Regions from separate parts of the Homo sapiens genome. Here region 2 is linked to region 1. The links come from fine-mapping of genetic effects on plasma protein levels. A gene starts in region 1. The other region holds a variant in brackets. All regions are shown on one strand. Distances are from middle to middle.

Evidence for each region. PIP is the chance, under the fine-mapping model, that this variant and not a neighbour inherited with it causes the effect. The UK Biobank Pharma Proteomics Project read protein levels with antibody pairs (Olink). The fine-mapping took linkage between variants from a reference panel, not from the people measured, so its PIPs are less certain.
Region 2: its variant is fine-mapped to the plasma level of the GSR protein (UK Biobank, PIP 0.98).

Annotation. Positions count from the first base shown.
Region 1 is chr8:30,725,113-30,728,018 of GRCh38, reverse strand. It overlaps GSR (glutathione-disulfide reductase), which reads left to right and starts at 173. Exons shown (of 13, transcript NM_000637.5): 1 at 173-489. The coding sequence starts at 184. RefSeq lists silencers at 1-2, 73-512 and an enhancer at 588-1,275.
Region 2 is chr8:30,697,263-30,700,168 of GRCh38, reverse strand. GSR (glutathione-disulfide reductase) reads left to right here. Exons shown (of 13, transcript NM_000637.5): 6 at 34-88. Among named protein-coding and RNA genes, the nearest start is that of GSR, 29 kb to the left of the region's middle. The variant A/GGA (reference allele first, on the strand shown) is at 1,305.

The sequences.
Region 1 (2,906 bases):
GGCTCCGCCACCGGGGCGGGGAACTGGGAGGCGGCCCCGCCTCTGGGCATCCTCCTGGGTCTTGCCTAGCGGCGGGCGCATGCTTAGTCACCGTGAGGCTGCGCTTGCCCGGGGCCCGCGCCCCCCTACCCCGGGGACCGCCCCCGGGCCGCCCGCCCCACTTGGCGCGCCACTTCCGCGTGCATGGCCCTGCTGCCCCGAGCCCTGAGCGCCGGCGCGGGACCGAGCTGGCGGCGGGCGGCGCGCGCCTTCCGAGGCTTCCTGCTGCTTCTGCCCGAGCCCGCGGCCCTCACGCGCGCCCTCTCCCGTGCCATGGCCTGCAGGCAGGAGCCGCAGCCGCAGGGCCCGCCGCCCGCTGCTGGCGCCGTGGCCTCCTATGACTACCTGGTGATCGGGGGCGGCTCGGGCGGGCTGGCCAGCGCGCGCAGGGCGGCCGAGCTGGGTGCCAGGGCCGCCGTGGTGGAGAGCCACAAGCTGGGTGGCACTTGCGTGAGTACCGCCGGTTTGTTCGGGCGGGGGGCGCCTCTTTGTCTCGGTCTTTCGGGGGACAGCCTGTGCTCGTTCCTATGGCGATCCTGTCCCCCGGCGCTGGGCTTTCCTCTTTTCCACCCCCGCAACTCCCCATTCCGAAGCCAGGAACCCAGCAGGTGGAGGAGAGAGAGGCGTCCGGGGGCTTCTCTGCGGCCCGCAAAGCCGAGCCAGCGTCTGCTTCCGCACGGATGCGATATTGACCAGGGCCGGGGCGGGTTAGATTAACCTTCCTCCATCCTCACTTGTCCAAGTGGGAGAGGATTGGATTCTGTTCTTGACCGCGTGAAACACAAAACTGCATCTGGGAACATTGCTGGTGGCCTGTGTGTAGGGACGAGGGTGACGGTGCCATAGATCCTGGTTCTTGAAAAATGTAGATCCTGGTTCTCCCGTTTCAAGGGCAGAATGATTTATAGCGGTTGTTGTCAACCTTGGCTACACATTCGAATCACCTGAGGGTGCCTGGATTCCCGACTTAATTGGTCTGAGGTGCACTTGGGCTTTGGGATGTTTCCCGACTTAATTGGTCTGAAGTGCAGCCTGGGCTTTGGGATTTTCGGGTGATCTGAATTGCAGCCAAGGCGACCTTGAGTAGGTGAGTTCTCAGAGCTTTTGTTTTGTCTTGGTTTTATGTGGATTGCAAAACTAAAAACAGAGGGATGTAAATCCTGAGATTTACAAAATTCATAATTTTTGAAAATAAGGGTTTTTGTTTGTGTTTGTTTTTTGAGACAGGGTCTTGCCCTGTCACCTAGGCTAGAGTGCAGTGGCCATCATAGCTCACTGCAGCCTCGAACTCCCGGGCTCAAGGGATCCTCTCACCTTGGCCTCCTGAGTAGCTGGAACTACAGGGGGCTAATCACCACGCCTAGTTAATTATTATTATTTTTTGTAGAGATGGGGGTCTCGCTATGTTGCCCTTGCTGATTTCAACCTCTTGGACTCAACCGATCTTCCCGCCTCAGCCTCCCAAAGTGCTGGGATTACAAGCCTGAGCCACTGCACTCATTCTAAAAATAAATGTTGTTTCCAAGTTATTGGTGTGCCCGCCCTTTTCTATCACAAGATTTGGGTGTTGACGATTAAAATGCTGTATCCAAGAGGAACCTGGGATTTGGGATAGGTTCTCTAAATTCCTTTGGAGATGAATATTTAAATTATGTCAAATTGGGAGCTCTTTAAGGACAGGGATGGGCTTCTGTGTTTGTGTGTCTCTTATCACCTTAAAATCCCTTGCTCAATAAGCACTTGTGCAATGAATGAAACTAAAAATGGACAGTTATGAAAAGGTTGACTTCATTGTTCAGTGCCTTGGAGATGAACATGGAGATGAAGAGAAAGGAAAAATCTCTGTTAATTATCAACTTGCACTTTGACACCATAGTCCAGACAGAAGGTTAGAAATCTGTCTCTCCAGAAGGCAGATTGTGGGGTGCCACTAAGTGCCCCCCTCCCACACCTCATGAGAGTACTTGATCACTTCTCACTTCTGTTCTGCTCTCCACATTTTCTCTGTCTTCCTCTTTCTCTACTTATGTTATAATGTGCTTCAGAGGTTCACCCACTTTACCTTCCTGTTATGAATTCTTTTTTTTTTTTTTTTTTTGAGAGGGAGTCTCACTCTGTCACCCAGGCTGGAGTACAGTGGTGCAATCTGGGCTCACTGCAACCTCTGCCTCCCAGGTTCAAGCAGTTCTCCCGTCTCAGCCTCTCGAGTAGCTGGGAATGCAGGTGCATGCCACCATGCCCGGCTAGTTTTTGTACTTTTAATAGAGATGGGGTTTTGCCATGTTGGCCAGGCTGGTCTCAAACTCCTGACCTCTGGTAATCCACCCACCTTGGCCTCCCAAAGTGCTTGGATTACAAGCATGAGCCACCACACCCAGCTAATTTTTTATTTTTAAAATGTATTTATCTATTTTTTTTTCGATATGGAGTCTTGCTCTGTCACCCAGGCTGGAGTGCAGTGGTGCAATCTCGGCTCACTGCAACCTCCGCCTCCTGGGTTCAAGCAACTCTCCTGCCTCGGCCTCCCAAATTGCTGAGATTACAGGTGCCACTACACCCAGCTAACTTTTGTATTTTTAGTAGAGCCAGGCTGGTCTTGAACTCCTGACCTTGTGATCCGCTCACCTCAGCCTCCCAAAGTGCTGGGATTACAGGCGTGAGCCACCACGCCTGGCCTGTTTTTATTTTATTTATTGTTTTTTAGAAACAGGGTTTTGCCATGTTGCCCAAACTGGTCTCTTATGCCTGTGCTTAAGCAGTCGGCCTGCCTTGGCCTCCCAAAATGCTGGGATTACAGGCATCAGCCACCACTCCTGTCCCATTTTTTGTATTTTAAGTGCTGGGATTGGGGGTGGGTAGGGAGAAAA
Region 2 (2,906 bases), 28 kb after region 1:
CTTGTGTGATCTATGTTGCCTTTTTCTACATAGGTGCCAGCTTAGGAATAACCAGCGATGGATTTTTTCAGCTGGAAGAATTGCCCGGGTAAGCCAACCTGACCTGACCTCAGTGACTCATTCTTCCTTACTGTCTCCTGGTAACTTTTCTTCGTCTTCTCCTCCCAAGCATTTAATGTAGGCCTTTCCTGAATTCCCTCCTCTTACAGCTTCTCTTTTCATGACCTTGTATATCTCATTCCTAGAACTCCTCAGTAGATCCCTCAAATCTTTCATGCTTTCAATCAGAGGCCAAAGTCAAATGCAGGGTAATTTGAAGACTGCATAGCAAAGTCCTAAAACTGTCTTCTTTCTTCAACTTAATACAGCATCAATTAAGAATGTGTCTAAAGTAGCTTGTATTTTAGAATAGAATAGCTGGTTTTGGCCAGATGTGGTGGCTCATGGCTGTAATCCTAGCACTTTGGGAGGCTGAAGCGGGCAGATCACCTGAGGTCAGGAGCTCGAGACCAGCCTGGCCAACATGGTGAAACCCTGTCTCTACTAAAACTATGGAAATTAGCTGGGTGTGGTGGTGTGGGCCTGTAGTCTCAGCTACTCGGGAAGCTGAGGCAGGAGAATCACTTGAATTCTCAAGGCGGAGTTGCAGTGAGACAAGATCACACCAAGAAAGAAAGAAAGAGAGAGAGAGTGCCACCACGCCCCGCTAATTTTGTATTTTTAGTAGAGGTGGGTTTTCTCCATGTTGGTCAGGCTGGTCTCAAACTCCTGACCTCAGGTGATCCGCCCGCCTCAGCCTCCCAAAGTGCTGGAATTACAGATGTGAGCCACCACACCTGGCCAGATTTTCTTTTAATGAACAAACATTTTTTTTTTTAGAGACAGGGTCTTCTTCCATCGCCCAGGCAGGAGTGCAGTGGTGCCATCATGGCTTGTGGTAGCCTTGAGCTCTTGGGCTCAAGCAATCCTTTCACCTCAGCCTCCCGAGTAGCTGGGACTACAAACGTGCACCACCATACCTGGTTAACTTTTTAATTTAAATTTTTGTAGAGATGGGGTCTCGTTCTGTTGTCCAGGCTGGTCTAGAATTCCTGGCCTCAAGCAATCCTCCCACCTTGGCCTCTCAAAGCAGTAGGAATACAAGCATGGGCCACCGTGCTGAATGGATTTAGATTCATAGAGGGGCAAAAAGATCATGAGGAAGTTTGTTTCTCTGATTTGAAGTTGCTGTACATTGCAGGCTTTCTAGTTTAGAGGGATGCTCCTGTCACTTGTGAGAAGAGGTGATGCCTGGAAACAGGTGG[A/GGA]GGGACCCAATGTGTTGGCGCAGGGACTGGCCTTCATTCATCTTCTGAGTGGCACTCACTGTGGAGTTTGCATTGCTCAACTCTTCTGCTCCCTCAGGGGCTGTGCTAATCCAGTTTGAGGTCCTAATCCTATGCTTTTAGAAGGGCTTTTAGGGAGAGTGACTCATAGTCCATGAGCCTATCTTCACTTTGATTCACCCAGAGTCATGGACAGTTCAGACAGCACGAGGCAGTTCAGAAAGGACCAGGGAGCTGCTTTGCAGTTCCATAGGATGGTGAAAATGTCCCTTGAAGATACCTCAGACCAGGCAGGCTTCTGACTTGGAGGAGTTCTAAGAAAACCATACAATCTTTTTTGGTTTGCTATCAGGTCGCAGAAATGTGTTAGAGAACAGCCTTCCTTCCCTGTGATCCACCCTGCATTGTTTGATTTTAGGGTTGAGTGACATGACATATGTGAGGATGTAGTGAGACATACAGTCATGACTCATTATGTTTGGATAATGTAATTTCATTCCGGACTCACCCTCAAAGAAGTTTCATTATAAATAGCTGTTCATTAGCAATTTTAAATATTTACATTTATGCATGTCATCAACAAAAGGCTCTGAAACACAAGAAAATGAATTTACGATTGATACGTGATTCTTCAAGTCTACTTTATCTTTGTTACGGTGTTGGTGAATAAGTAATAACTGGGCAAGTACATAAATAATGTAGGGAAGATAGCATGATTTAGTTTTTGCACTGAGGGGGCTTCTGTTTGGATGGAGCATGAACCTTGTGGAATACTGTGCATGAGTAGTCCTGGGGCTGCAACGAGGTAAAGAGAAATCTTTTAGGGATTCAGCCGCCTGAAAGATCAGTTCCAGAAGCCAGGCACAGTGGCTTATGCCTGTAATCTCAGCACTTTGGGAGGCCTGAGGCGAGCGAATTTCTTGAGCCCAGGAGTTTGAAACCAGCCTAGGCAACACAGCACAACCCGATCTCTGCAAAAAAAATACAAAAATTAGCTGGGTGTGTTGGCACATGCTGGTAGTCTTGGCTACTTGGGAGGCTCAGGCCGGAGGATCACTTGAGCCTAGGAGTTCGAGACCAGCCTGGGCAACATAGGGAGATATTGTCTCTGCACAGAGTTTTTTCCTCTCTGAAGAAATGAGGCTAAAGAGCTTTAAAAACAATGAAAAATACATTTCCCTTCTGTGACGGGATATTAGGGATTTTTCTTTTCTTTTGAGATAGGGTCTTTTGCTCTGTCACCCAGGCTGGACTGCAGTGGTATAGTCATAGCTCACTGCAGCCTCCACCTCCCAGACACAAGTTATCCTCCTGCCTCAGCCTCTCAAGTAACTGGGACCACAGACATGGACCATCATACTTGGATAATTTTTATTTTTACTTTTAGGGGTTTTTTGTTTGTTTGTTTGTTTGTTTGTTTGTTTTGTTTTTTTGAGACAGAGTCTCGCTCTGTTTCCCAGGCTGGAGTGCATTGGTGCAATCTTGGCTTACTGCATCCTCTGCCTCCTAAGGGCAAGCGATTCTCCTGCCTCAGCCTCCCGAGTAGCTGGGATTACAGGCACACACCACTGCACCTGGCTAACT